Linked DNA regions of Homo sapiens. The protein of the gene in region 1 interacts with the protein of each later gene in a pairwise test. Each region holds a gene or a part of one and is shown in the gene's direction. Other genes may lie near its edges. The genes, in order: COL8A1, ARMC5, CCN3 and BPIFA1.

Evidence for each region.
Region 2: the proteins of COL8A1 (region 1) and ARMC5 interact in binary tests that used the Homo sapiens proteins (3 or more experiments, as listed by UniProt).
Region 3: the proteins of COL8A1 (region 1) and CCN3 interact in binary tests that used the Homo sapiens proteins (3 or more experiments, as listed by UniProt).
Region 4: the proteins of COL8A1 (region 1) and BPIFA1 interact in binary tests that used the Homo sapiens proteins (3 or more experiments, as listed by UniProt).

What each region holds. Positions count from the first base shown.
Region 1 is NC_000003.12:99,634,002-99,641,614, forward strand, and holds the start of COL8A1 (collagen alpha-1(VIII) chain precursor), read left to right. Parts: upstream 1-4,592; 5' UTR 4,593-4,663; exon of another isoform or gene 4,664-4,679; intron 4,680-7,613. UniProt on the Homo sapiens protein: Macromolecular component of the subendothelium. Major component of the Descemet's membrane (basement membrane) of corneal endothelial cells. Also a component of the endothelia of blood vessels.
Region 2 is NC_000016.10:31,454,910-31,462,521, forward strand, and holds the start of ARMC5 (armadillo repeat-containing protein 5), read left to right. Parts: upstream 1-4,615; coding exon 4,616-5,090; intron 5,091-7,012; coding exon 7,013-7,120; intron 7,121-7,221; coding exon 7,222-7,612.
Region 3 is NC_000008.11:119,411,831-119,419,459, forward strand, and holds the start of CCN3 (CCN family member 3 precursor), read left to right. Parts: upstream 1-4,615; 5' UTR 4,616-4,702; coding exon 4,703-4,786; intron 4,787-4,913; coding exon 4,914-5,139; intron 5,140-6,227; coding exon 6,228-6,479; intron 6,480-7,300; coding exon 7,301-7,515; intron 7,516-7,629. UniProt on the Homo sapiens protein: Immediate-early protein playing a role in various cellular processes including proliferation, adhesion, migration, differentiation and survival. Acts by binding to integrins or membrane receptors such as NOTCH1.
Region 4 is NC_000020.11:33,232,049-33,239,002, forward strand, and holds the start of BPIFA1 (BPI fold-containing family A member 1 precursor), read left to right. Parts: upstream 1-3,947; 5' UTR 3,948-4,002; intron 4,003-5,648; 5' UTR 5,649-5,663; coding exon 5,664-5,823; intron 5,824-6,006; coding exon 6,007-6,166; intron 6,167-6,954.

The sequences.
Region 1 (7,613 bases):
CTCTTTACAAAGCCAGCAGGAGCTGTGAGGCAGTCATCTGTGGGGTCACCTGCATCAGTCAGCTCTACCCTATGGGCCAACAGGAAAACAGTGACTCACAAAATCCAACGGTCCTTTGGAATGCGTAAGAGGTGTGCCTTTCTTCTGTGCTATAAAGCGTTTTCCATTTTTGTAAATAAAACCCCATTTTAAATGTCCTAGGAGAGCTGGCAATTTTAAGTGCCTTACGGACTACGATCATATTTGGTCATGCTTAGCATGGGCTAAGACTGATTGACTGATGAGTCATTTGATAGATGGAGAGCAAATTTCTGTACACCGTATTTCAAATTGTCAGATTTACTTCAAGTGAGCACACCTGTCTGTGACTTTTGCTTAGGCCAAAGCCACATTCATTTGCATTTTAAAGCTCTAAGGAGTGAAAGGAAGAATCAGAGCTTGAAATCTGGCATGGGCAGCACAAACAAATAGTTAAAAATTAACTATTTGAGAACATAGATGTGAATGTGCAGTTTTTAAAGCCAGATCACACTGTTTTCCAATCCAGAAATCCTTGAAAACTCAAGGATCTCATGGATCAGGTATATTATTTAGGGATAATGTAAAGCTACAGCAGGTGAGAAAGACACTGGGCTCCTCGGACACACAGAGAAGACATCACTCTTTATGTGAATCCCATATGTCACCCTGGCCACACCGTGAGAGGGTCCTGCCTTCCTACCCCCTTCCTACAACCATACAGGACACTCCAGGGAAAACTGGGCTAGAACCACTACTGTTTCTGCCACCTTGCTCAGGCCTCCAAGTCTGCAGGATGCAGACACTCTGTTTTCTCTATTTCTAAGTATGCTATCAGTCTGAGATGCACAGGCAAGCATTTATCTGCAAAGCCACAATAAAGACCCTATATTCAAAGAAAAATGAAATCTTGAAAATATGCCACTTTCACCATGCCATTCTATTGCTCAAAAGTCTTCATTGATTCTGCATTGCCTACAGAATATAGTTTATACTTCAGACTACTGAGGTGACCTCATCCCTCCTCATCCCTCCTCTCCATTTCTCAGCCTCATTGTTCTACCACATGGACCTTTCTATACAGTCATGCTGGCCAATTCACCACCTTCTGAATATTCCTGTGATTTCCCTGGTTGCACACATATCCTCCCTTGCCTGGAATGTACTACTGTCCATCACTCGTCTATTCAAATGCTACTTTCCATGGCTCAGCTCAAATGCCACCTCCTCCCTGAAGTCTCTTTACTAAAATTCAACTATCAGGATTTCATGCTTTTCTTCCTCTGTGAGAAAAGATGTCATATTTTCCTCTGCTTTGAATACCTCACATTGTCTGATATCCATTCTTAATAAATATTTGTTAACTGATTAATTCTAAATAAACTCCAAAAAAGGGTTACATTTGCAAAGCTCTCAAAAGTAAGGTAATGATCTGTAGCTGTTATAGCCACACAATGGAAACTTCAGAGCATCTAGTATGTTGTCATTGGATTCCTTTCCTTCCACAGAAGACCAAACTAGGTCATTTCAAACCTCAGTCACCTTCAGAGAGATTCTAGGAAGGGCACACTAAGAGTCAGCAAAGAGACGACATTCCTGGATTCCTGACTTGTTGTCCAGATCTGCTACTGAATCAGATTCAGGTAAGTGTGAATGGGAGAAATGAACTAATTATTAGTGCCATCCAAAAAAATGAAAGCAGTGCTTTTGTTATGTTGGCTGGTTTGAAAGGAAGAAAGAATTAAAAATAAGAAGAGAAATTCAGCCTACAGCCATCAATTGTCTTTTCTTCAAATGTGCTTTTCTTGCCTTTCTGGTATTTTTTTTTTTTCATACGTATGTGATGGAACTGGAATGTTTGAGAAGAATTAACTTAGGATAGAAAAGATGATTTGTTGTAATCTGATAAGGGTATTTACTAACATACTTTATCACCCAGCTTCTCCTCTAAAAGTCCCATTTTGTTTCCCCAGAACACATTTCTTTGCTAAATTAAAAAGTTCCAAAAGTGGTATTGTGCTTGTAAAATCACATCTGATTTCAGCGTTATGTCCAAGAATAGATAATGCAGTCCTATTTCTAGGTCTAGTAACAAGTGTTACTCGTTTGACAGACTTCACTCAGTAGATTTGGCCACATCCTCAAAAGACATACTATTTGGGAAGAGGAAAACTGAGTTATGGAGGGTAAGAAGAGAGTAAAACCAAACAGCAAACGGGCAGAAAGTTGATGTGAAAGTTTTAGCTTTCTAAGCATTCATTAAACTAACAAATGCTGACCATTCTCTATTGTCAGTCCTCAATATTGCTGTTTATTCAATTAGCGAGACTATACATATTTATTGAGCACTTATTTTTTACTAGCTAGTAAGCCACTAGTTATAACTTTGTGCAGCCAAAAAATTATTGAATATAATTTGAATAGGGAACATAGAGATAAAAAATTATAAAAAGGCGAATAATCAATAATGCAAAACATCGTGAGTAAATTTGAAAACTCTGGTGTCAAATTTGTGTTTACGATAAAAATTTTAAATTTTTTATTTCATATATGATTGTTCTTGCCTCATATCCCGGGCACATGGGAGTTTATTTCGTTGACTCCCAGACGTAACCAATTGAGAATAAGCTTAGTTACAAAGGAAGTAATTGAGGCTTTGAGCTCTTGAAGCTAACAGATGGAAATACGTATGTAAAAACCTAAGTGCTGTGTAAACTCGGCACATATGGACGTAGGTATTATTATTATCCAAATGGCACTACTGGGTATTTTCTTAATAGATTCTTTTAAAATGCTTTTTTATAGTTGTGGGCCTTTTTTAGACGAATAGTTCTTAAGAAGAGGAGGGGATTTTGTCCCTCAGCGACATTTGGCTAAATCTAGAGACATTTTTTATTTTCACAGCTGGGTGGCGAGTGCGGAGTGGGTACTGCTACTGGCATCTGGTGGGTAGAGGCCACGGACACTGCTTAACATTCTACAGTGCACAGGAGAGGTCCCTACAACAGAGAAATATTCTCCCGAAAGTTTCAGTAGTGCTAAGTTTGAGTAATTCTGCTCTTCACCATCAAGTTTCCTTCTCTTGGAGCCTGCTACCAGCCAATGACATCAGGATCTAACCTGAGACGAACCTAGGTGTTCTATACGGCAGCCTGGTGTACTGAAGAGTGCCTAAGGTTTGCAAGCTCGCTAGCTGTGGCTCCCCCTCTCGCTAGCTTGAGCTAGTTATTTAAACCCTTAGAGATGCCTTTCTTTAAATTAAAAAAAAAATAAATAAATCTGCACAATATGAATCATACCTACCTCATAAGGTTGCGGTGAACACTGAATGAAGTACATATATACATATTCAGTACAAGTTCGTTCCTTTATTATTTCCAGCCTACCCATCCCTCCCCCCTCCCATTCCCGCCTTTTCCCCCTCCCGGTACTGTATCTCCCACCCCAAGTCTCAGGTTCTCTTTTAAAATGCTTTAATTCCTTTGGTGGCAAAAATCAGGCTTGGGCTAGGAAGTGAGTCACCACTCAGCAGCGAAAGGAGCTTGTTTTTCTTTCTCTGAATGCATTTCTTAGTAATTTCAGACTGATCCTTTAGCCACTTGTTGGTTGAATCCTCTCTTAATGTTTAAGACACACTGAGAAAGAACTGTGGCACCAAGACGTTTTCCGATTGTTAGGAATGAGAGTGTTTTAAATACCGAAAATAACCAGAGGGCAGAGAGCTCTGAAATCCTACGTTACATAAGCAGATGCTGGAAGACCCAGGCTGGTTCTGAGGTTCCTGTCTCCACAAGCAAGTCCACGCGAATCCTCCCCGTTGCTGGATTTACTTTAATGCTGCCGAAGTCTCAAAAGGGGCCTCTGGATGCTCAGAGGACAGGCAGCGCAGGAACTTCCTTGTCAAATAAGCCTTGCCTGGAGGGAGAGGGATGGGGCGATTTTCACCCGCGGGCGGTGGGACGGGGCTGAGGGCTGGGGGCTGCCTGGCTCCAGGCCATGTCAGTGCCTCCAGCTCCAGGTCCGGGTCCACCCTGAACTTTGGCTCTGCTGCCCGGACGCCCAGCTTCACCTCCCTTGCCTCGCTTAGAAACCCTTCAGTTCTCCCGGACCGCTATGTAGCTTTTCAAATTCCCAAATTCACAGAAAACACCTTCAAAAGTCACAATCACCCACAACTCCCTCTGCCAAAAAATGTCATGCAAAAACGGAAAATACTCCGATTCCCCTTTCCTCCCAGACACTCTCTCTCTCTCTGTCTCTGCTATTCATTTTCTCCCCCACCTTTCCCCATCTGTGGTCAAGATCCCTTTCACTATTTCTAGTTCCCTCTCTTTTTTCCCTTCTCCCTCTCTCTCCCTTTTCCACTCCTTCCTCCGTTGTGACCGCGCTCCCCCTCCCCCCGCCCCGTCGTCTCTCCTCCGCCTTGCGGGCTCCAGTCTCTGCCCGCCCCTCCCCAGAGAAGAGTGTCCAGCTCCTCCAGAGGCTGCCCGCCCGCCGCTCCTTCCCTGCCCACCTACTATGAGGAGCAGCTCCTCCCACCTGCCCATAAAAGCCAAGTGCATGTTACCAGCAGCGGATCACAGCCCTTCCCCGATCCTCTCCGTGGGAGCCAGCGAGCCTCTCTCCCTGATCTTACGTGCTCAAGGTAAGACAGCACTTCTGCAGGCAGCTCACCTACCAGGGGTTGCTATGGGGGAATAAGTCACCCTCTGGCCAACGCGTTTGCTGTTTGGTTAGAGCTGATTCTTACGGATGCGCGATCCGCTGCTCCTTTAACTAGCAACTGGTTTGAAAACAAACTTCTGTTTGAATGGTAAAATAAAAGCTCCTTCAGGGAAGAAACAGCAGCATAAATATTGCGAAACCTTTCTCTTTTTAAATCACTTTTTCTCCTGTTGCTGACTGTTGCTTAGGTTAAAATGTATCTGTTTGGGGTGTTGTACTGACGTTTTTCACTGTACATATTTCACACATCAGTGGGGGCAAGGAAAACGTTGTCCCATTGTCAAAAATGTACTTTAAAAGAACACAGTTAACTTCCTAAAAATAGCACAGTCAAAAGGTCTGCTAACAATTTTGTGATGTTTTCCAAACCCCCAAGACAGCTTCTGTGAGTCCTTTAAAAAAATATCTTTCCAGGTTTTAGCGCTTGGAAAAAAATGATGTGAACGGGTGCCCTTTGCACGGGGACAGTAAGTAATCAGGTGGCTGGTAGATAGGAAGGAACAAATCCAAATTCACAAGCCAGGGTAGAATGTGCTCTCTCACCAGGCTATCTTTTCACGACATCCTAAAATGAGAATTACGATGGAACTAAGAAAGTGTATAAAAGAACTTCATGAATTTCTGTACACACACCTAAACATAAAGTGTTTCAATATGTTTCACAGTAAGAGAATAATACAGGCCAGATTATACAATACTTCTGTGCACACCAGATGGTTGTAAAGAAAGATCAGCGAGAAAGGCTTTGGAAGTTTTAATCCTTCTTTCCACCTTTTTTCCCCCGCATTTAGTAAATCACAACCTACCTGACTGGCATCCAATTATCAGAGATATTCAGTGTTTAAGCTACCCTCTTTAAAAGAAAATGATCTCTTCTTATTCCTAAGGTAGAATAAATGTGCACCTGTGAAAGGAAAAACATACTCCACAGCCACTTCTGTAAAACCAGACACTTGGTCCATGAAGTTTGCCATCAAATTCTGTGGGTTGTGTGGGATGAAACTCTCTCAAGTGGGAGAAAAACCCTCTTCAAATGTTTCCTCTGGGGAATTGCTCAAGACCACTTAGAGAAGGCAAACCAAAAGTACCAGTCAGGAAACCAAACCACTCTTTTAGCCCTTAAGGTTCTTAAAGTAAGAAGAGAAATGTTTCACTTTTTTATTTTTTTGTTTGTTTATATTATCTCATGTGGAAAGAAAAAACTCACCGAAGCTGTATGAAATTCTCCCCTATTAAAGAAACAAGACTCATTAGAAATTTAACTTAGGTCTTCCAAACCATTTCTCCTTAGCTTTTGCATATCAAAAGTAATAAAAATATTTAAAAGTTCTGCTTGAGATGGAGAGGATTCAATGCTGTTACTCAAATGCAAGAGTTATATATAAAGCTTCTGTCACGTTAAATTTTTCTTCATTGGAAAAAAATATTGCAAGAAGTGCAGTTTCCTTTAAGCAAATTATATAAAATTACTATTGGCCAAGATAGTATGTGACCTGAGCATATTAACATACCTTTTATCTCATGCCACAATGCAGACTGCTTGCTTTATATCTGATGCACATAGGTAATCAACCATGACAAGAGTACAGGTATGGGACAAGGCCAGACCAAGTATGTGGCACATTCAAGTTAATTCTTCTTTTATGGTAGTGCCTGACTCACACCCATTATCACAAGGATGAAAATACGCTGCTTCATTCACCAGATCCCCTTGAGGGAAGTTATCTTTTCTTGGGGTGGAGGGGGAAATGCTCCCAGTTTAAATGAGCTTCCAGTTATTCCTAAGTTTGGGGATAAAAGTATTCTCCAAGGGTTTACTTCTGCTTTCTCTGGCAATTAATCCACCGGACCAGCTATGGACCGTTAAACAGTAACTGCCTTCCCTATGTCCCATCAAGTTCAAGCCCCTAAATAACTGAGTGAGATCATCTTAGATTGCTCATGATCTAAGTTTCCCAGGAGCAAAGCTATCCTTTCTCCATAGGGTACATACCAAGCAAGATGACACTGCTCTTCTTAAGCTTTTAGAAAAATCAGTGTCGAAGTTTCATGTAGTCGCCCCCAAATCTCCCCTTCTGCATGGGATGTGGATACTTCACGTGAGTCTCCTCTTTTTGCCATTATATAGCTGCCTCTTGATCAAGTCCATGACTATACCCAACCAATGCCATTGAGGCAGACTTGGGAGGACTTCTTAATGTTTCTCAGAAAAGATAAGATGAGAAGCTGCCGCTTTCACTAGAGACACAAGAAGGGAGCTCTACTGATTTTGAGGGCTTGCTGATCCTACAGAAATGTGCATTTTAGATGTTCTACTACTGTCAAAATTATAAAATGATATCCTTTTCATGATCAGAAAACATATGCCACTTTATTCCTATTTATGAAATAAAAATCAAGGAGAAGAGGATTGGGGTGAAAAGGGACTTGAAAGAGAAGCTGGAGGAATCACAGAAGTGCCCTAGGAGAAAAGCAAGATTAGGAGCTCTGTTACGAAACGCAACTTCTCCCAACCCTCATTTATGTGAACATGAGGGGATGGGGAAGAGCAAAAATCCATGTCTGCTCTTGTCTTTTTATTTGTTTGTTGTTTTTTAATCAATGAGAGTATAAGATCCATCTCTACTATGCCCTTCTTCTTAGCCCTCCTTCTTTAGCAGAAAAGAACAGCTTGGTTCTAATGATGAAAATGATTTCAGGTTTGCCCCATATTTAAAAACCCACAGTAATTTGCTAGTCATAATTCTAAAAGCTATACTATGAGTTAAAATAAAAAACTCCTTAAAACATGTTTTTAACTAACAGATGGGTCACGTCAACAAAACCAACCCTAAGTCTCCTGAAAAGTGTAATGTTGAGTGCTTATTTGT
Region 2 (7,612 bases), on another chromosome or scaffold:
ATGGTAGCTCACACCTGTAATTCCAGCATTTTGGGAGGCTGAGGCAGGGGGATTGCTTGAGCCTGGAAGTTTCAGAGACCAGCCTGGGCAACAAAATGGAACTCAAAAAGTAAAAATCTTGGCTTGTTTGAAAACACACACACACACACACACACACACACACACACACACACACAGCCAAAACAAATGTGTTTCCCATCTCGGGCTTGGGCACTGGGTCACAAGCTTGGACAGTGAAGCTACTTCTAAACCCAGCACAGGGTACAGTGGATGCAGGACATGGGATAAACTCCTGTTAGATTAAGCCCGTCCCTCTGCTTCTGAGGTCTGGCCTGCCTCGCTGTTCTGGTCAGAACCTGTTTTATGCAATTGGAGAGGAGAGGGGTCCCAGGAGTATTAGCCCTAATGTGAGAAATTAGATTACAGGTCTCTGAAAGGGATTCTGCAAACCAATCCTCCTTCCAAGCCTACTCTACCCATACCTAATATTCTTAAGCAGTTATGAATTTTGCAGAGGTCTACAACACTTGACACTCACTCAAGGCAACTGTGAGGAAACTGAGGCTTAAAGGCCACTAGTAAGCAGTGTAAAAAGGACCTGATCATGACAATTATTCTTTGAGTGCCTACCATGCATGTGCTGGGCTCAGGCCCTTCACTCAAACCCTGGCTCGTACTCTCTGAAGGGTCCTGGGTGAGGAAGATGTCAAGAACCCCATACCTCATCACTGACTCCCTGCCGGGGGCATGTGCTGCTCCCAGCCTGAGATGAGTGCTGTTCATTACACGTCATCTCCATGAAGCCTCCCGCATTTGCTCCAGGAAAGGCCCGTTCGCCACCCTGGCGTCATTCACTCTGTGTTGCTGATATTGAGTCTGTTTCCTTCAAGGGGAAACAGGCTACCCAAGGACTGGGGCTGCTGCCTTCATTTCTGTAACCTCCGGGGGGAGCTCTTGTGTGAGCCGCATGATGGATGCTTGCTAACAGCTCTAGGCAGGAGGCAGAGGGAAACTGAGGTCTGCCGAGTCATCCCTGGCCCAGGTACTTCATGCGTGTGCAGTGTTGCTGTGGAATCTTTACCACAACCTCCCATCCCTGTTTTACAGATGAAGAAACAGGCTCAGAAGAGGCAGACGTGTCTAAGATCACACAAGCCTTGACACCATGAGCTAGAAGCTGAGGGTGAGGTCACTTCACATCCCTTCCCTTTAGGTTCTACTCTATGTGGGTAGCGTCCTCGACACAGAAAGCCTGATAAAAGATGGCAAAATTACCGGGCGTGGTGGCTCATGCCTGTAATCCTAGCACTTTGGGGGGCTGAGGCGGATGGATCACTTGAGGTCAGGAGTTCGAGACCAGCCTGACCAACTAGAGGCTGGTCTTTAGTAGAGGGTTGGTGAAACCCTCTACTAAAAATACAAACACTGGCTGGCATCGTGGCGCAAGCCTGTGGTCCCAGCTACTCGGGAGGCTGAGGCAGGAGAATCACTTTAACCCAGGAGGCGGAGGTTGCAGTGAGCTGAGATCGTGCCACTGCACTCCAGCCTGGGCAACAGAGTGAGACTCCGTCTCAAAAAAAAAAAAAAAAAAAAAAAAAAAAGATGGTAAAATTTGGGGGCAGCAGACCAGATGCCTGGACTGATGGTAGGACTGTCCCACAAGGGGTGGACATTAGGTCCTTGAAACAGACAACTCCCTCCCCCAGCAGGGAAGGGAAGGGCCTCAGAGCTTGGTGTCTACTCTGAGCACAGGCAGGTGCTTTGGGAAGCCTACCCCTGGCTCTCACATACACAAAGTTATGCCAGTAGAAATATATGTTTGGGCAATGCCCAGGCAAAAGGGCCATGTTCAGTCCCCAATGTCCAGGCACAAAGGACTCTTCGCCACTCTTCCCTCTCTTGACAGACTGGCAGAAAAGGAGCCTGGGGAACTTGGAAGGGAAGGGGATAAGGCAGGGGAAGGGGCAGATGACAAACCCTGGGCCTCTTGCCCCTGCCCAGAAATGCAACAAAGCAACCCCTGAACTCAACATACAGGTCTGTTCTGGGGCCCCCACCACCCTAGCATCATCCATAATGATAGTTCTCACGTGCTGAGAGGACTTTTGAAGGGCTCACACACCCAGGGCTCACACAATGGTCCCAAGTTCAAATTCTCTGGCCCATCTGCCAGAACACAGGATCCCTCATGGTTCCCTCTGGAGGTTAGGAATGCCCCGCCTGCGCGCTGCCATGGAACTCCTCACAGGGGCTTGCCTGATTTCTGGTCCCATTCCTCTGGGAAGAGGTAGCTGTTGTTCTAGGTGTGATTAACCCCATCACTCCCTAGGCCTGTGAAGGGACTGTGTCAGCTACTGCCAGATCTGCAGGCAGCTGGGTCCACGCTGGATAGCTCCCGCCATTCCAAAACTCTCCCTTCAGCTGGTCGACGTTCTGTCTTTGTAACTTCAAAGAACAAACCTAAGCCCTCTCAGCTGACTGGGCTCTTTGAAGGCAGTGATCACAGATCTAGTGTTCTGATTCTTCCAGACTGGGGCTCCTTTGTTAAAAACAATTTTTAAATTTGTTATTTTTTTGAGACACTCTCTGTCGCCCAGGCTGGAGTGCAGTGGCACGATCTTCGCTCACTGCAGCCTCCGCCTCCCGGGGTTCAAGTGAGTCTCCTGCCTCAGCCTCCCGAGTAGCTGGGATTACAGGCGAGAGCCAACACGCCTAGCATTTTTTTTTTAGTAGAGACAGGGTTTCAATATGTTGGCCAGGCTGGTCTCGAACTCCTGGCCTCCAGTGATCCGCTAACCTTGGCCTCCCAAAGTGCTGGGATTACAGGCATGAGCCACCATGCCCAGCCCAGACTGGGGTTCCTTGACTTAGCAAAGGGTTGGGCAAAAAGATGTGGAGACCCCCTCGCCCCAACCGAATCCCATCATTAGCTCTAAAATCAACAGCCCTAAGGGAGCAGAAGGGGGTCTGCTTAGAGATCCTGGTTCCTTCCATTTCCTTGAAGTCCGAACCAAAGTCAGAGCTGAAGTTTCAGCTAAAATTGAAGCCAGGGCTATTTGCAGAGGCTGCCGCCCTAGTGCGTCCGCTGGTGCTGGCCCAGGTTGGAGCTTTGCGCTAGGGCCCTGCCACACTGCAGGCAGACGCAGGGGTGCTGCTGTGGGCCGCCTAGTGGATGGGCAGGTGGGAGCTGTGGCCGAAGGTCTGGCCACACTCACCACCAAGCATCAGGTTTCCGGACTTTGTGACTGTGCTGGTGCCGCAGCAGATTCCAACTGTGCACAAAACTCTTACTACAAACAAGGCACTTAGAGGCCTTCTCACCCATGTGGAGCGCAGGTGCTGCAACAGGGTGGAGCCAAGGCTGAGACTCTTGCCGCAGTCCCCTCAGCGGTAAGGCTTTTAGCGGTGTGAGCGCGCTGGTGCTGGATCAGGTTGGAGCTGACGCTGAAAGTCTTACCACACTAGGCACAGGCATAGGGCCGAAGCGATGGTCACACTCGGGGCAGGAGTACGGCTTTTCACCGGTGTGTACCCAGTGGTGCTTAACCAGATCAGAGCCACATCGGAAGCTTCTGCCATAACCCGGACAACGGTAAGGCTTGTCACCAGAGGGGCTGCCTTGGTGGTGAATGAAGCCGGGGAGGCAGGCTGTGGTCAGTCCACATTTCCGGCACTCGCAGGTTTTGGGGCTTGTAGACGGTTGCTCTTGGCAAAGGCTTCTTCCTCCCCAGGGCTAGAGCCTGACCATTTTCCGGGCGGGCAGCTGCCCCGACCACACCAGGAAGGGCTGCTCAGGCGGAGCCACCTCGCAATCCAGGGGTGACCTGGGGGCTCCCCGGGACGCGAATGTCCCGCTCCCCCGCCGCCCCGCCCCGTCCGGATTCTCCCTCGCCTCTTCTGGCGCGGCCGACTGCGCTGCGAGTGAAGAACTCCCCGTTTCCTAGATGCCAGCTCCTGAGCTCACGAGCACGTCCAGAGCGGAGGACACTCGGGACACCGGGGTCCAGCTCCGGAAACGGAAAATTCCACAAGCCCGTCACTCTAGGAAGCGGCAGCGAACGTTCTCGGTAGGTTTAACCCTCTTCTTCCTCTGACCGAGCGAGGGCTCCCCGTCTGCGGCGCGGTCAGGACCCCGCACTTTCGGCCCGGCTCGGGGTTCTCGGAGTCCGTCCCAAGGCCGGGCCGCACCACCGCTGGGGGGCAGCGAAGCGAGCCTAGAGGAGAAAAGGCGGTCCCCGCCGAGTGCACGCCGGGGGCGGGGCACGGCACGAAGGCTCCGTGGTCGGACTTCTGGGCTGTTCGGAGGCCCTGGCCCACCTGGAGGGCCCTGGAAGAGTTTCCAGCGCTTCCCGAGGTAGGCGTGAGAAGCTCGACGCGGACCACATCTCCCTCATGCACCGCCCGCACGTCCCAGGATGCGCTGCGATTAAGGTACTGCCGCGCCTCGTGTGCAAGGACAGACTTCCGGGGTCGAGAACTACAACTTCCGACTTGCATCACTGCGGTGGCGCTAAACAGCGTCAGCGAGGCGGTGCCCGACGATTTCCCTGTCTTCCAGTTCCGCTCCCTGGGATCAGCGGCGAGAAGCGGGGCGGAGTCTGAGGCCCGAGCCAAGATGGCGGCTGCGAAGCCAACCCTCACGGACTCGCTCTCGTTCTGCCTCGCGCAGCTCGCGGCGGCGGCCGGGGAGGCTCTGGGTGGGGAAAAGGACCCAGCGACCAACGAGACACCCCTGAGCCGCGCGCTCCTAGCCCTCCGCACGCGCCACATCAAGGCAGCGGGGGGAATCGAGCGCTTCCGGGCACGCGGCGGGCTCCGCCCCCTACTCGCGCTGCTACGGCGAGCGGCTGCAGCGGGTTCCGCCCCGTCCCAGGCAGGCCCCGGCTCCGCCCCCTCGTCGGCCGCGTCGGGAGCTTCTAGCCCCGCCCCCGCGTCGGGCCCCGCCCCCTCCGCTGTGTCGTCGTCTAGTCCTACGCCGCCAGTGCGCCTGCGCAAGACGCTGGACTTGGCGCTCAGCATCCTAGCCGATTGCTGTACGGAAGGGGCGTGCCGGACCGAAGTGCGCAGACTCGGAGGCATACTCCCTTTGGGTAAGTGCTCCGCCCCCGTTTCCTAGAAAGATTAGGTTTGCAACTCCCTTGCTCTCTAGACCCGGGCAGTCTGGAGTTCTTTGTGTCCTATCCCGGAATAACGTGCTTTGTGATGGCGCATCGCTCCTGTTTCTCAATCTGTTGTGCCCCGTGACGTCACTGCACTCTCTATAGATGAGAGAGAGCCCTCCCAGACCAGATAATTGTAGCCATTATCTAGGAATTGGTTGTTGAGGACTTCTTTCGAAGCTGGACTAGCGGAGGCCAAAGAGTTATTTGGTGATTTTTTCAGATGATTCTTACCGTCCAGTTATGATGTTCATAGCAGACATTCAGTGCCCAACTATGTGTCCGGCCCTGTGCAAGGTTCTGAAGCCCCACTGATGAGCTGGAAGGTGTAGTGGTTCAGAAAGGGAGATCTGCAAAAGTCACCTAACCCCTCCGAGGCTAGGATTCCTTGTAAAATGGGGCAATAATAGCTACCTAAAAAAATCAGAGTGGGGAGAAAACGAAGTACAAATATGGCACGAATATGCAAATATTCTAAGCATGATACGTATTTCAAGTTATTAAAAACTAGCATAAGCTGGGTGCAGTGGTACGCGCCTGTAGTTCCAGCTATTTGGGAGGCTGAGGCGGGAGGATCCCTTGAGCCTAGGAGGTTGAGGCTGCAGTGAACAATGACTGCCTGTGAATAGCCACTGCATTCCAGCCTGGGCAACGTAACAAGACCTCGTATCTTAGAAAACCAAACAAATCAGTAGTCGCTTAGGAAGCAGGAAAAAATAAATAAAAATAATTAAAACCAGCACAGTAAGAACAAATCCTAGCAAAACATAAGCTTTTCTGTTTACCAGCTAAATTGGTGCCTCCTAGTGGCAATGTGTGAAAGCAGTTTACATGTCACTACCTGCCTTCCACGAAATTATGCTAGTTTTGATGACATCTTAACTTTTCGGATAAAGGGAAGCATTAATATATTTAAAATTTACATAAAATGTATCTGGACCATATATGTTTGACAAGAGCTTTGGTTATTAAATAACCCCCATCATTCAGCTACTATTTTTCATCTTAAATATCTTCTGAATTTATCTGCTTCTCTCTCTTCCTACTTCCATTGTGTGCCCAGAGACTGGTATCTCTGTGCTGTGTGATGCCAGTAGCTGGGTTGGTTCAAGCTATTGTCTTTTCATGCTTGGACTATTATGACAGCCTTTTGACTCCCCCCTTCCTATTCTTTCCCCATAATGCATTCTCCCTATGGATGTCAGATTGTATCGTGTCACTCCCCTTCATAAAACCCTTGTGTGGCCCCCAGTGCCTTCACATTCAAGTCCTGACCCCTTGGCCTGACATTTGAAGCCTTTCACAGACACTGTATCTTACCTCTGGGCCTTTGGAAAGGCTGCTTCCAAACCTGAAATGCCTTCTCACACCCCCATCCACCGTGCTTCTGGCAAATACCTTCCTGTGTACCCCTCCAGACCCAGCCCGAGTGTTAGCCTCTTTCTTTTTATTTTTTTGAGATGGAGTCTTGCTCTGTCATCCAGGCTGGAGTGCAGTGACACGATCTCAGCTTACTGCAACCTCTGCCTCCTGGGTTCAAGCAATTCTCCTGCCACAGCCTCCCGGGTAGCTGGGATTACAGGCGTGTACCACCATGCCCAGATAATTTTTGTATTTTTAGTAGAGATGGGGTTTGGCCCCGTTGGCCAGGCTGGTCTTGAACTCCTGACCTCAAGTGACCCACCCACCTTGGTCCCCCAAAGTGCTAGGATTACAGGCTTGAGCCACGGTGCCCTGCCGACCATTAGCCTCTTCTGAAAGCCTTCCAGGCCCTCTCAGGCCACATTCTCCAGGTTATTGATGTGAGAGACAGTAAGGGGTAGAACCCTCACAAGCCCAAACTGTCGTTGCAGTGACCATTCTTCAGTGCATGAAGACAGACAGCATCCAGAACCGAACGGCCCGTGCCCTGGGGAACTTAGCCATGGAACCTGAGAGCTGTGGGGACATCCACTGTGCTGGTAAGAGGCTGTGAGGTTGGGGTCTGCTAGGGCTTGGGGCAGAAGAAAGGCTTGAGTGTCTGTCCTTGTTCACCCTCTGTGCTCCCCTTTCCTGCCCTCAGGTGCTGTTCCCCTGCTTGTGGAGAGCCTGACAGCCTGCCAGGACTCGCAGTGCCTACAGAGCGTGGTGCGTGCCCTCCGTAACCTGGCAGACTCACCCCAGCACCGCCTGGCCTTGGCACAGCAGGGAGCAGTGCGTCCGCTGGCCGAGCTCCTGGCCACTGCCCCAGATGCTGCACTGACCTTAGCCCTCGTCCGTGCCCTCCTGGAACTCAGCCGAGGCTGCTCCCGGGCCTGTGCTGAGCAGCTAAGTCTGGGTGGGGGATTGGGCCCACTCGTCAGCCTGGCTTCCCACCCCAAGCGGGCAGTACGCGAGGGAACCATTCTGATCCTCGCCAACCTGTGTGCCCAGGGCCTGATTCGGCCTGCACTGGGCAATGCTGGTGGCGTGGA
Region 3 (7,629 bases), on another chromosome or scaffold:
CCATCCTTTTAGTGCCAAGCAAGACCCAGAGAAGTTTCATGTCACAGGCTGATGGGTGGTGGCTGATAGGACCAATTTAGCTGCTGCTGAAGAGCAAACAGCCTCCAGTTTGTTTCTTATCTCATCTTATGCAGAGCAATGAAAAGTGGCAAAACTTAAAGTGGAGTTTGCAGTATCTCAAAAGGTCCAAGAACTGACCACTTGCCTGACCCTGAGGTGGATGTTGGGGATGTTACTGTAAATACGACATGCTCTGTGTCCTCAAGGACTCCCAGGCAGGACAGGGAGGCAGTCACCAAAACAGACAAGTACAGTCACATCTTACATAACAATATTTTGGTCACCTACGGACGGCATGTACAATGGTGGTCCCATAAGACTGTAATGGAGCTGAAAAATTCCTATAGCCTAGTGACATAGTAGCTGTCATGACATTGTAGCACACTCATGTGTCTATGGTAATGCTAGTGTAAGCAAACTTACTGCACTTTCAGGCATATAAAAGTATAGCACATATAATTATGTATAGTCCATGTTTGATGATGATAATAAGTGACTATGTCACTGGTTTATGTATTTACTATACTTTTCATCATTATTTTAGAGCATACTTCTACTCATAAAAAAAAGTTAACTATAAAACAGTCTCAGGCAGATCCTTCAGAAAGTATTTCAGAAGAAGACATTGTTATCTGAGGAGATGACAGCTCCATGTGTGTTATTACCCCTGACAACCTTCCAGTGGGACAGGATGTGGAGTGGAAGACAGTGACACTGATGATCCTGACCTTGTGTAGACCTAGGCTAATATGTATGTTTGTGTGTTATTTTTCACAAAAAAAAAAAAAATAAAAATATTAAAACTAGAAAAAAGCTTATAGAGGCCAGGCACAGTGGCTCATGCCTGTAATCCCAGCACTTTGGGAGGCCGAGGCAGGTGGATCACGAGGTGAAGAGATTGAGACCACCCTGGCCAATATGGTGAAACACTGTCTCTACTAAAAATACAAAAAATTAGCTGGGCGTGGTTGTGTGTGCCTATAGTCCCAGCTACTTGGGAGGCTGAGGCAGGAGAATTGCTTGAACCAGGGAGGCAGAGGTTGCAGTGAGCCAAGATTGCACCACTGTACTCCAGCCTGGTGACAGAGAGGGACTCCATCTCAAAAAAAAAAAAAAAAAAAAAAAGCCTGTAGAATAAGGATATAAAGAAAATATTTTTGTACATCTGTACAATGTATCTGTGTTTTAAGGTAGGTGTTATTACAAAAGGGTCGAAAAGTTAAAAAAATTAAAAGTTTATACAGTAAAAAAGTTACAGTAAGCTAAAGTTAATTTATCATTGAAAAAGGAAATTTTTGAATAAATTTAGCTTAGCCTAAGTGTAGTGTTTATAAAGGCTATAGTAGTGTGCAGTTATGTCCAAGGCCTTAACATTCACCCACCACTGACTCACTGACACCCACTGCAAGCTCCATTCACGGTAAGTGCCCTACACAGGTGGACAATTTTTTATCTTTTATACCATATTTTTACTGCACCTTTTCTAAGTTTAGATATGTTTAAATCACAAATACTTACCATTGTATTACAGTTGCCTACAGTATTCAGTGCAGTATATTCTGTACTGTTTGTACGTTTGTAGCCTAGGAGTAATAGACTATATCATACAGCCTAGGTGTGTAGTAGGCTACACCATCCGCATCTGTGTAACTACACTCTATGATGTTCACACAACAATGAAATCACCCAAGGACACATTTCTCCAACAATATCCCCATCATTAAATGGTGTGACTATAATGATTATCCAGTGAGTTATGAGATAAAAGAGATAAGCTCGGCATCCCAGGCCTGCACTGCGGATAACATCTATCCCGGCATGAAGGATTTCAGAGACTATGTCCTGGAGGCAGTGAAGCATGACATGACATGATTATCATCAGATGGTATCACTTTCAATTTACAATTGTTTTAAGATGAAGATCCTCATCCTAGAGCATTTATAGCAGATGATGGAGTGGATGTGTATTGTTTTGCTCACCAAGCTTGCTTTCTTTTTAAGGAACAGTCCTTTCTTCCCAAGAGAACTGCTCTTTCTCTCCATTCCAACCATGAGGTTCTAACTAATCCCCATACTTCACCTTCCTTGTCCCCATTGATTAGTCCAGGGTGAACCCATCCAATTTAATTCCTGGAACTTTTAAAGTTGGGCCTAAGAGACAGGGACATTCCTTCTGTGGTGATAAGGTCATAAAGTAAGAAGATTGGAAGGATCATTTTTCCCTTATGTGGAAGTAATCCTGTTGGCCCTCCTCTCTCTAGATCCCAATTGCCTCTGAGGACTCCCTGTACCATTCCTGTGCTGTCACTATGTGAAACATCACAGCATCCTTCCAGTAAAGTCCTCTTTTCGCAAAAACTAGTTCAAGTTTGGTTTCCATCTCTTGCAATCAAAACTGAATAGCAATTTTACACTTGCAGTGACTTCTTGACATGTTAATCCTTGTCTTAAAGTTACATTTTCCCTGTCACCACTCCCACCCCACTCTTTCCAAGAAGAGCTAGCCCAATCTCCATGTTGCCAATTTCTCCTTGTTCTATCTGAGTCTATTCATGCTTGGAACACTTGGCCGATGCTCTTTGCCTCCCCATTAGCAGTGCTTCTAGTTGCTCCATTTCAAAGTACATTAAAATGCTGTCTACCAAGAGCCACCACCAGAGAATCCTACTGAGTGGGTCAAGAGTGGGGCTCAGGAATCTGTATTTTTAACAAAATACATGCTGGTTGATTCGATCTGCAGCCAGATGGAGGCATCATTAGGCCAAATGGCTTACAAAACCTATCAGTTTTTTTGTTTTTTGTTTTATCTTTTTCTTAAACTTTTATTTCAAGTTCAGGGGTAAATGTGCAGGTTTGTTTACACAGGTAAATGTGTGTCATGGACATTTGTTGTGCAGATTATTTCATCGCCCAGGTATTAAGCCTGGTACCCATTAGTTATTTTTCCCGATCTTCTCCCTGCTCCCACCCTCCACCCTCCAAAGCCTATCAATTTGAAGAGTAGGTAAATGTCCTACTCAAGAGTGCAAATGAACTGTTTCATCTCTAGTTAAGTTTGAGTACTACTCAGTCTCATTTACCTCAAAGAAAGCAGAACTATTAGAGGCTTGGAAGTGTGTCATAGTGGTTTCAGGCTGCCGAGAGAATTATCTAGAAGGGGCTTGAGGTGACCTCATCATCTGCGGGTGTTGCAGAGGCAGACCTGGCCCCTTCCGCAAGCTGCCTTTGATTTCCTTCATGCTGGGGACAGATGAGGTAGAGGCCATTTGTTTCTTTTTAAACTCTAGAATTACATCACAGGCCTGTATAATTTTCCTTAAAAAGTGTTTTTTGTTTTTTTCCAAAGCAACTATCCTCAAAAGAGCTGGGCATAGTTCTCCTAGGGGCAGCACCAGTGTTGAAGTGTGGGGGGAAACTGTTCTAAATCCTTCAAACAATGTCACCTTTGGAGCAGTAAAACTGCTCCCTTTTTCCCATGAGAGATGACAAGCATGCCCCAGCAATCATTTCTTGAAAGCGGATGCCCGGTGAGAGAAGGATTTGATTTGCTGAAGGGTCAGCCAAGTTAAGCCAGTTTCTTCCTCATTTCTTCCCTGGCTGGAGGTTTTGATGGTGGTGATGGTGGTTGAACTGAACCCACTTAGAAAACTGTCAAAGGTTTCTGGACTCTCAGGTGTGCCGTCTCACATTTGGTCTGCTACAGCAGGTGCTTCAAGGCTTTCTTCTGCCAAGATTTCTTTGTTTTATTTTATGATGTTTTCTTTATGTGTGTGTGTGTGTGTGTGTGTGTGTGTGTGTGTGTGTGTTTTACTTTTATTTCTAACAAACCTGTGGACCTTGGGGTTTAAGACTGAGTGAAGCTAGAAGGATTAGAGTCAAAAGAATTTTGCCATTTGGCCAATAGCATTCCCCACCTCCTGACATATCGATTTTTTTTCTAGATTCCCTTCCCCCTGCCACTCCCCTCCCCCCAACACACACACACTTTTCTCTTTCTCCTCTTTCTCTCCTTTCCTCCCTTGCTTCTCTCCCCTCCCTCTCAACACATTCAATGAGTGCCCTAAACGGTGACAAACTTGCATGTGCTTCCCTCATGACTAAACCCCTGGGCCTTCTGCCAATCCCCTGCAGATGGCCCCAAACTGCAGGCATCCCGTAAGGGGACCCCACGCTTGCAGCCCTGGTTGGAACGGTCAGGGTGGAGGAGGATGGTGGGGAGTGGTGGTGTCTTCGTCCTGGGAGAAGGCGAAGCAACTTCCAGGAGGAAACGGGCGTTTCCTTCCCACGCGCTCGAGCGAGCCCTGGGTCCTGGCCTCGGAACTCCACCCAGCCCCTCCCCACCCTCTGGGAAAAGCCAGTCGCCACACACAGGCACACGCAGGCCCCGGCGCCGCGCCCTAAGGAGAGCAGCACCCACAGCCAATTGCCATGGCAACCCCGGGGTTCGTTCCACTTCCCCACCCAGCCGATCTCCCCCCTCCTCCCTGCACTGCAGCCAACCGGCTTGTGCGCGTCCCAGGAGCGCGCTATAAAACCTGTGCTGGGCGTGATCGGCAAGCACCGGACCAGGGGGAAGGCGAGCAGTGCCAATCTACAGCGAAGAAAGTCTCGTTTGGTAAAAGCGAGAGGGGAAAGCCTGAGCATGCAGAGTGTGCAGAGCACGAGCTTTTGTCTCCGAAAGCAGTGCCTTTGCCTGACCTTCCTGCTTCTCCATCTCCTGGGACAGGTAAGTGGCACACCCTTAAGATGCCCCCAAGTTACTTTGCCCGCCTTGGTGGCCCCCATTTGGTCACCGGGCTCACTGCGTCTTCTGTCCCAGCTGAGTGGTTTCTCCTTGTCTCGCCTGCCTTCAGGTCGCTGCGACTCAGCGCTGCCCTCCCCAGTGCCCGGGCCGGTGCCCTGCGACGCCGCCGACCTGCGCCCCCGGGGTGCGCGCGGTGCTGGACGGCTGCTCATGCTGTCTGGTGTGTGCCCGCCAGCGTGGCGAGAGCTGCTCAGATCTGGAGCCATGCGACGAGAGCAGTGGCCTCTACTGTGATCGCAGCGCGGACCCCAGCAACCAGACTGGCATCTGCACGGGTAATCCTGCTCCCTCTGCTGTTTGACCTCTTCTCCTGCAGCTAAGTGAAGCTGCTTCCTCCCTTCTCTTTTGTATTCCCCTTCCCAGAGGGCGATAAGCAAATAATAATAATGCAATAAATGACATGTATAGAGCACTTACTGTGTGTCAGGCATGGTTTGGGGAGCACTTGGGGCTTTGGGGAGCGCCAGAGCCAGAAAGGAAACCTGCCCTGGGGGTGAAAGGCATTCCTCACTTGGCTTCCTAGACAAGAATCTAAGCAAAGGGGGAGCCACGCAGAGTTAAGGGCCAGTGAAGTCATTTCCTTCGGACACTTCTAGGGGGCCACTTGGGGCTGATGGAAGCTCGGGTTTACTCACACGCTCACAGTTTCCCAAACTGCAGTTGGGGAAAACCCAGCAGGTTTGTTTTCACACCTGTAATTGTCCCATTTGAACCAAAGCAGCTGCTAGTCTCCTGGGATAACTATGTAACCCTTTTCTGGCTGCAAGTAAAATAAAATGCAGGCAACTAGCCAATCCAGGCTTCTAAAACGTAATCAGTCGGGGATCAATTTTTCACATGATACAACATTGTAGTTGAAGATTGTCCCTTCCTTTCTGGACAGGAGGGCTTTTACTTTTTTCTCTAAGCTACTGATGATTTTATTATGCTTGAGTGTCAAGGAATCTTAATGCCCTTCCCAATTTGATCAGCTAACCTGTTGGAAAACATAAAGTACACTTTTTCTCTTTTTAAGTCTAAGCTGCTGGAGTAGGAAACTCTAAGGAGGTTCTCGCAAAATGACTGAACATTGGGAAAAATGGCCAGGGGACCTTGGGGACATCACTTCACAGTTGCACACCTCTTTCCTCATCCATAAAATGAGTGGCAAGACTAGATGATCTTGAAGGTTTCTTCTTGCTCTGAGAGGCCTCCATGAGGACATCACTCTACAGTAGATACATGAGAAACCAGATCGCCTGAACTAGAAAAGGACTTGGGTTTTGGAACATGCCCTCCAAATCTTACATAGCTTCTTCACTGTATTGTGTTCTTGTTTTTCCTCTTCCTCTTTGCTTTTCACTTTGCTTCCCCAATATTCTAGCGGTAGAGGGAGATAACTGTGTGTTCGATGGGGTCATCTACCGCAGTGGAGAGAAATTTCAGCCAAGCTGCAAATTCCAGTGCACCTGCAGAGATGGGCAGATTGGCTGTGTGCCCCGCTGTCAGCTGGATGTGCTACTGCCTGAGCCTAACTGCCCAGCTCCAAGAAAAGTTGAGGTGCCTGGAGAGTGCTGTGAAAAGTGGATCTGTGGCCCAGATGAGGAGGATTCACTGGGAGGCCTTACCCTTGCAGGTGAGAAACTCAATATACCTAGGGCTGGTCATAGTAGAGGGTAAATACAAACATGAAGAATTTGCAATCTCTTGGATTTGAAAAGAGAAACTGGCCTCAGTTTCTGGTCATTCAGTTGTGGGTTTCAGGTTGCCCACTGAGATCAAACACATTTGTAGACATTAGATCAAACATATTTATAAACTCAAACTAAGTTATAGAAGGTTGCTGCAATTTCTCCTGAAGAGGACCTCCCAAATTCACTCTTTTGTCTTATTTTTGTCTTATTGGATGACTACTACTTGTATTTTAATCCATCCCACTTGACCCTCATTAGCACTACAAAGACAAAATTTTAAATTCTCTTTCTTTTCTGGATTCTGTACACTACCTAGGCCGTCTCATGATTAACCTCCTTAAAGAAGGCTACTCATCCCTGCACAGGTGTCACTGAAAAGTGTCATCTTTCTAGATGCTGTAGTAAGGCTCAGATGGCACTTCAGGACCTTTTTTTATTCTTATTTTTGTTTTCTCTTATCAATGAAATAGTTTAAATAAAAAATCTCAAGAGACAATAGAGGATTATTTTAGAAGCCATTAATTAGCCAGATTACTTATATTAGCAGTATCCGGAATTGTATACTATTTCTGAGGGCAGACATTATCAGCCATGCCAGAAATAAATAAATAGATAAATAAATTCAGTTCTGTGTCCTGGGAGCATGGGTGTTTAGTAGGTACAGAGTCGAATGAGACCCAGTTTCTAATAATGGCTGAAAAGGACCACTTTCCAATCCTCACATTGTACCTAATATGGCTGTCTTTATTTATACATCCCATAGCTTACAGGCCAGAAGCCACCCTAGGAGTAGAAGTCTCTGACTCAAGTGTCAACTGCATTGAACAGACCACAGAGTGGACAGCATGCTCCAAGAGCTGTGGTATGGGGTTCTCCACCCGGGTCACCAATAGGAACCGTCAATGTGAGATGCTGAAACAGACTCGGCTCTGCATGGTGCGGCCCTGTGAACAAGAGCCAGAGCAGCCAACAGATAAGGTAGGAGCCTGGAGGAAACCTCCCATCCTGAAGGTAATGGCCTTGTGTCCTTGGAGCCTGGGCTTCAGAAAGTCACTGTGTCACTCTGTGACGGAGAGAGCAGCTATAGCGGGG
Region 4 (6,954 bases), on another chromosome or scaffold:
GAATGCTCTGGAGCTTCCAAGGCCATCTGAAGACCCTCTGCAACTCAGTCCCCACGCTGACCTTTCTCCTGGGGAGGAGATCCTGCATCCCATTCTCACATTCTGGAGAACAGACCTTGCATAGGTCAGAGCCCTTTGAAAAATCAAACCAATTCTGCCCTTTAGAAATGGATCTTTTTTTTTTTTTTTTTTTTGAGACAGAGCCTCACTCTGTCACCCAGACTGGAATGCAGCGGCATGATCTTGGCTCACTGCAACCTCCGCCTCCCAGGCTCAAGCAGTTCTCCTGCCTCAGCCTACCAAGTAGCTGGGTTTACAGGTGCGCACCACTAATGCCCAGCTAATTTTTGTATTTTTAGTAGAGATGGGATTTCACCATGTTGGCCAGGCTGGTCTTGAACTCCCGACCTCAAATGATCCACCTGCCTGGGCCTCCCAAAGTGCTGAGATTACAGATGTGAGCCACCACACCCGGCCAGAAATGGATCTCTTGATTGACAAAACAACCTGAGCAAAGGCTCCCAAACACAATTGCAACCTGAGAAGCAGGAAGGAAAGGCACCACCTACAGTTTCTGAGAAACACATGGAGAGGGTATTGACATCACCAGAGTGGGGAAAACCTCTTGAAATGTTCGTGGTGTGTCCTTCCACTTGTTTCCTGGTGCCCTGAGACCTTTCCCCTGTTCAGGGCAGGGAGCATGCAGTCCCTGTGGCCACAAGGAAGGGCAGTTTCAACAGAAGCAGAAACAAGGCTCTTGACTTTCAAGAGCCTGGGTTTTTGATAAAGTGGTAGTGACAGAGAACAAACAGGTGGTTGCCAGCAGATGAAGGCAGGGTGTGGCTGTAAAGGGACCCATGAGAGTGCCTTTGGGGGGATGGAACTGTTCTTTACCCTGATTATGATGGTGGCTGACTATACATGTGGTAAGACTCAAAGGACCATACCACTAAAAGAAGTCAATTTTACTGTAAGTTTTTTTGTTTTTATAGTCTTGGCTTTTGACTTGTTAAACTCAGGGCATAGGAGAGTCTGAGAACAGCATACACACAATGAAGTTGAAGCAAATCTTCCTGCCCACAAAACTAGAAAATGCCCTATGTTGGGTTGGTGAAGTGTGAGGGTCCAGGAGAACTGGAAGGAGCATAGTTCTGGTGGGTTCTGATGGTGCCTCCGTCCCTTGCTGCTCCCAGGCAGACCTGAGCATGGGATGAAGGGAACAGAATCCCAGGCACATGTATGGGATCCAGGGACAGAGGGCGTCTGTGTCCACACTCCCTCCCAGAGCCAGAAGAGGGCATGAGACCCCAGGGAGAGAAGGGTAAAGGGAGGGTCTAGGTGGATCCAGGCAGGAGGGCTTGGGCAGCCCCTCACAGTCCTGTATCAGGCCCAAGGAACTGGCGAACAGCAGAACAATTCTGTGTCTTACAAACGAGTTGAAAGTAAATGCTAAATCCAAAGGGACCTTTCACCAGGAGGGAAGTACAGTGTCTCTGCAATCTAGGGGCAGATGGCACATGGCTGTCTCCTATATTGCCAGCCAAAAATAGGGACAGGCAGCCTCCTTGGTACAAACAAAGCCCCTAGCACAGACATGAAACCCCAGGGGGAAATTGGGACATTTCTGTTCCTGAGCAAAATGGCATTTGAAATGGTAAAGTATAGATAAATCAGAAAGATGTGTGGACGCCTGAGTTTATGAACTGTGATTCATACCAGCTCCCCAGACATCATCTCCCCATAGCCCTGTGAGGCAGATTTTATGCTCCCCATTTTACAGGTGAGGAAACTGAATGAAGTTCAGGGAACTGGACTGACTTGCCCAGGGTCGTAGGATTTGAACCAGGGCTGTTTGAGCCCAAATTCACCCACTTTCTGCTGCAATACAGACACAGCCTCCCGGCCTCAAACCAGAGGGTGTAAGCTTTCATTAACTGGCTGCACAAACTCTACTAATTCCTTGCCTTATCTGCCTCAGTTTCCCCACAAGGATAGTAGCAACCTGACCCAACCCACAAGAGTTATACGATGGGACCACTGTGAGGATGATTGCCATGTACAAGATGTGGGCAGAGTCCAGCAAGTACCTTGAATGGATAATTAAGTTCAAAGCCATGGCCCCAAACCCTTGGGGGCACCACCCAGACTCTGGAGAGCAGTGGAGCAGGCCAGTGAAGGCCTAGTGTGAGGGAGGCAGTGTGGCCCACTGATTAGCAGGGACTCAGACAGACACAGAGGGTGGCAGGGTCAATTGACTCCAACACTCACTCGCTGTGTGTCCCCAGGAAGCAGTCACCCTTTCTGATCCTCAGCCTCCTCATCCAATGTATGAGAGACAACAATACCAACCACTCCTGAAGAAGATGAGGTTCAAATATGGAGAGCACCTGGCATGCAGTCAGTGCTTAATAAAAGCACATTTATTCCTTCTCTCTCCACTTTTGCTTATAAGGTGTTAGGTTTTGCAGGGTAAGAGCTGCGCTCACTGGTCCAGGACCTTGGCCTTCCTGTGTCTTCACTTTTTCATCTGCTGAACAGACTCCAAGGGCCCCAGTGGTGGGGATAAATAAATGCCTGATTACTCCATTTAGGGAAAGGTAGAAGAAAGGGTAGGATAGAGACCAGGATGCCAAAGGATCCCTCAGGCCTGGGAACCTGGAAAGACTTTTCCAGGACCTAAAAGAGAAGCGGCGGGGCACTGTGGCTCACGCCTGTAATCCCAGCACTTTGGGAGGCTGAGATAGGTGGATCACCTGAGGTCAGGAGTTCGAGGACAGCCTGGCCAACATGGTGAAACCCCATCTCTACTAAAAATACAAAAACTTTGCCAGGCATGGTGGCGCTCGCCTGTAGTCCCAGCTGCTCAGGAGGCTGAGGCAGGAGAATCACTTGAACCCGGGAGGTGGAGGTTGTCATGAGCTGAGATCACACCACTGCACTCTAGCCTGGGCGACAGAGTAAGACTGTCTCAAAAAATAAAATAAAATAAAAATTAAGTGAAAATTTAAAAAATAAAAAGGGACGCATGAAAGTGTAAAGTTCACAGGTGGGGAAATCAAAATGGCCAGCAAGTGTTGGGAGGCACCTTCATCTCTCAGTGCAGTGATTCGGGGAAAGGACCTGAATGTGGATGTCTCACCCCAGGCAAGCACTGCATCTCTGGACAACTTGCCTCACACTCAGCCTCAGTTTCCCCCTTATAGAATAGGAGTACAGGGTTGTGAGGATTTTGTGAGATGCTGCCTGTGAACACCATGGCAGGCCAGGCATACAGCAGGAGCTCGGCCAGTGTCTGCTGTTGGCGTTGTTTTTGTTGTTTTCATTCTCCAGTCAGTTGCATTCTAACTCTGCTGCATCCTCTCTGGGTCTTTCAGCACTTGTCCCCACTGGATCTCAGTTTCCTCCTCTATAAAAGAGGAGGAGTCACCTCTCCCTCTCAGGGTTCTTGTGAGGACAGAGAGCTCCTGACGTGCAATAGGGGCTCTGAAAACAGGAGACCCTTGCCCTGGAATGGAGACGCACCCCAGATGTAGGATGCAGTGTGACTCTTTTGACATTTTAGGAGAAAGAATCCTCCAACTGGAGCAAAAAAATTAGAGCAGGAGAGGAAAGGGGCCAAGAGATGAGACTGAGGTCCCTTCCTGGGCTCTGTCTGGCTGCTCCTTTCAATGCTCCAAGCTACCTTGGGAGCGTGGGTCCCCAACCTTGGCTCCGCTCAGGAAACCATAAAGTCTTGAGTAACATCCCATCTCAGGTTTTTCTCTGTTTATCTTGTTGACCAAATAGCTTAACTGTCTCACCTGCTAATGTGATTGGCAATTATTTACTTTGGAGAGCCCTGAAAGACACTGTCAGATTGCAGAATTCTCAATTATCTAGAAACCCATCACCCAACACATGCTTCCTCGTCCCCATACTATAAAAGAGGCTGACTCCTCGGCAGAAGTGAGTGGGGGAGAGAGAGGAGACCAGGACAGCTGCTGAGACCTCTAAGAAGTCCAGGTAAGAGCCATCCATTCTGTGGCCCCTCTGCTACCCTTAACGGCAGGGATCTCAGGCTCCTGCCCTGTGGGGCAGTGAGTGATCTTGATCACTCACTGGGGGCTGTGCAAGAGAAACAGACCTGGCCAATGTCAGGGATGTGGGGATGGCCATTTGCTCTGCTGTCCTAAGAGACCAGTAACATTGATATAGAAATGGGCACTATTAATGCCGTAAATGAAAGCCTCTAAGGCATAAGTTTTAGCTTGAGGTTACCAATGTGGATACAGATGATCCAAAAACCTCCTAAAATTCTTCACCCAATTTTATACATTTTGATGCATTTTTTCTGAGACTAGGATCTTTAGCTTCCATTGGATTCATAAAGGGTCTGTTGCCCAAAAGAGATTCAGAGGCTGTGGTCAAAGTTACCTCCCTAAGAAGGGCACAACTGGCTCTTTGGACCAAAGACCTTTCATTTCCAGCCTTCCACCACAAGGATGGAGCTTTAGCTGAGTCAGCCAATAGATGGAATTTTGCACAAAGTCACCAGTTGTCTCCAAATTGTAGGTACTAGTGCTGGCTCTGGACAACTCTGCTGGCTGCCAAATAGACCTGTGAGAGGTCTGCAAGCCAAACCTCAGGGGTTGACCGGAATTCCATCCAGGGCAGCTTGAAGGAGAAGAGAAAGGTGTCAAAATGATAGAATGCATGTTTGTGTGTTGGGTGAGGGGAGGGTTGGGAGACCTGCCTTCAACCACAGCTCTGCCATCAATTTATTGTATGACCTTGGGAAAGTCACTACCCCTCTTTGGTCTCCTGGTTCTTCTCATGCAATGAAGACTTTGATGGCCCCAGGAATTCCCCAACAAAGGTCTACATGAGATGGTGGCTGTGGCCATGCGACCCCTGTATTGTGTGACTTTCAAGGGCATCCACCAACCATCATGGCCTGAGCTCAGGCCAAAGGACTGAACAGGGATGATCTAAAACAGTTCAATTCTTCAGCACTTGCACGTTTAACCCTTCTCATTTGCTTTGTCTGAAGAGCAGCAATGATTCAAACCATTGAAGCAAGCCCGATTGGAGAATAAATCTGATGGTTACTTAATTTAACCGAGGGTTCACCTGGCTCTAGCTTCTAATCCTCTGTCCACCGTGTACTTGTGACCTTGGGGAAAGTTACCCACACTCGGTAGTACACAAGTGGGTTTCAAGAAGGGATGGGAGTATATTTGAAACTCCCAACTGCAAACTCACTTGACCTCTGTGAGCCTTGGTTTCTCCTACTGGAAAATCAGACAAGTGAACTGTGGGCAAGATGGAGTGAGGTGAGGCTGGGATTCTTGGCAAGAAGGAAAAAAACCCTCTTCTTTGGAATGTGGTGGAGTGGGGCTGTCTCCTTTTTAGGCCCCTGATCAGTGGTCCTCACCTGTGCAATGCAGGTAACAGGTGCCCATGTCTTAGGGTTGTGATGAAGATGAAATTGTGTAAAGTGGTCAGCCTGTTGCCTGGCAAAGAGAAATTGTTCAGCAGTATTAGCTATTACTAGTGACCCCCTGGTGTTCTGGGGAGCAAACAACCCCACCCCCCAGGTGTCAGGGCAGGTGGTGGATAAATTCCTCTCTGATACCCATGCCATGTTGGACTTGTCATTCTGGCCACAGATACTAAGAGCAAAGATGTTTCAAACTGGGGGCCTCATTGTCTTCTACGGGCTGTTAGCCCAGACCATGGCCCAGTTTGGAGGCCTGCCCGTGCCCCTGGACCAGACCCTGCCCTTGAATGTGAATCCAGCCCTGCCCTTGAGTCCCACAGGTCTTGCAGGAAGCTTGACAAATGGTGAGTTTTCAGGGGTGTATGTGTGCATGTGTGTGTGTGTGTGTGTGTGTGTGTGTGTGTGTGTGTGTGTGTGTGTGTGTCCAACCCTGCAAAGTGGGGAGGGACAGGGCTGGATGGGGGAGGGGGCCTGAGGATCTGGAATTGTCAGATCTGACCCCCAGAGACCCTTACACCCATTTCCAGCCCTCAGCAATGGCCTGCTGTCTGGGGGCCTGTTGGGCATTCTGGAAAACCTTCCGCTCCTGGACATCCTGAAGCCTGGAGGAGGTACTTCTGGTGGCCTCCTTGGGGGACTGCTTGGAAAAGTGACGTCAGTGATTCCTGGCCTGAACAACATCATTGAGTGAGTTGTCCTAAAATAGAGCTTTGATCTCCACCAGGGAACCCCAGGTGAAGATCTGCCAGCCCCAGGCAGTGACCCTGAAGCAGCGACCCTGAAGCAGCGAGGGAGCGGCCTGAAGATGGAGCCAGGACTCAGTTCTGAGACCCATCTCCAGTTTGGCAGGGACACCCGTCCTCCCCAAACCAGCAATGCCCTCAGTTCTAGGCATGTCCTGAGGCCCCAGCATCATCTATAATCCTCACCACAACCCTTTGAGGTCGATTTAATAATCTCCAGTTTGCAAATGGGAAAACCAAAGCACAGAGGTGCCTGTGTTCACGCTGCTAGAGTGATGCCAAGTGAGTAAGGCTCTCACTCTACTATCCTAACTCCAAAGCCAAGGCTCTTCCCACTACACTGTGGTCATTTTGTTCTCTGCACCTGTGAAATCCCTTAGAACACAGACGGCCTTTGATGTTAGCGAGAGTATAACCTGCCCACCTTGATGATATCAATGTGATGAAAAACAGTGTGATGTCCATGGAAAGGTCTAACGTGGAGTTTCCCATGAGACACCCAAGAGCTCGCAAAGCAAAAAGCAAGAATGGAAGCTTGATGCCAGTGAGCCGGCAGAGCCTGGTTCCTGGATAGGACTGGATCAAAGCCATTTCCAAAATCCTACCCACCCAGGGTCTCACTCCCTGACTTGGAGACAGACAGACTTCTTGACTTTGATTTTCAAATGTACTTGTTGGATGACCTGGGACAGGACACCCTGTCTCTCTGTGCTTGGTTTCTCCATCTGTAAA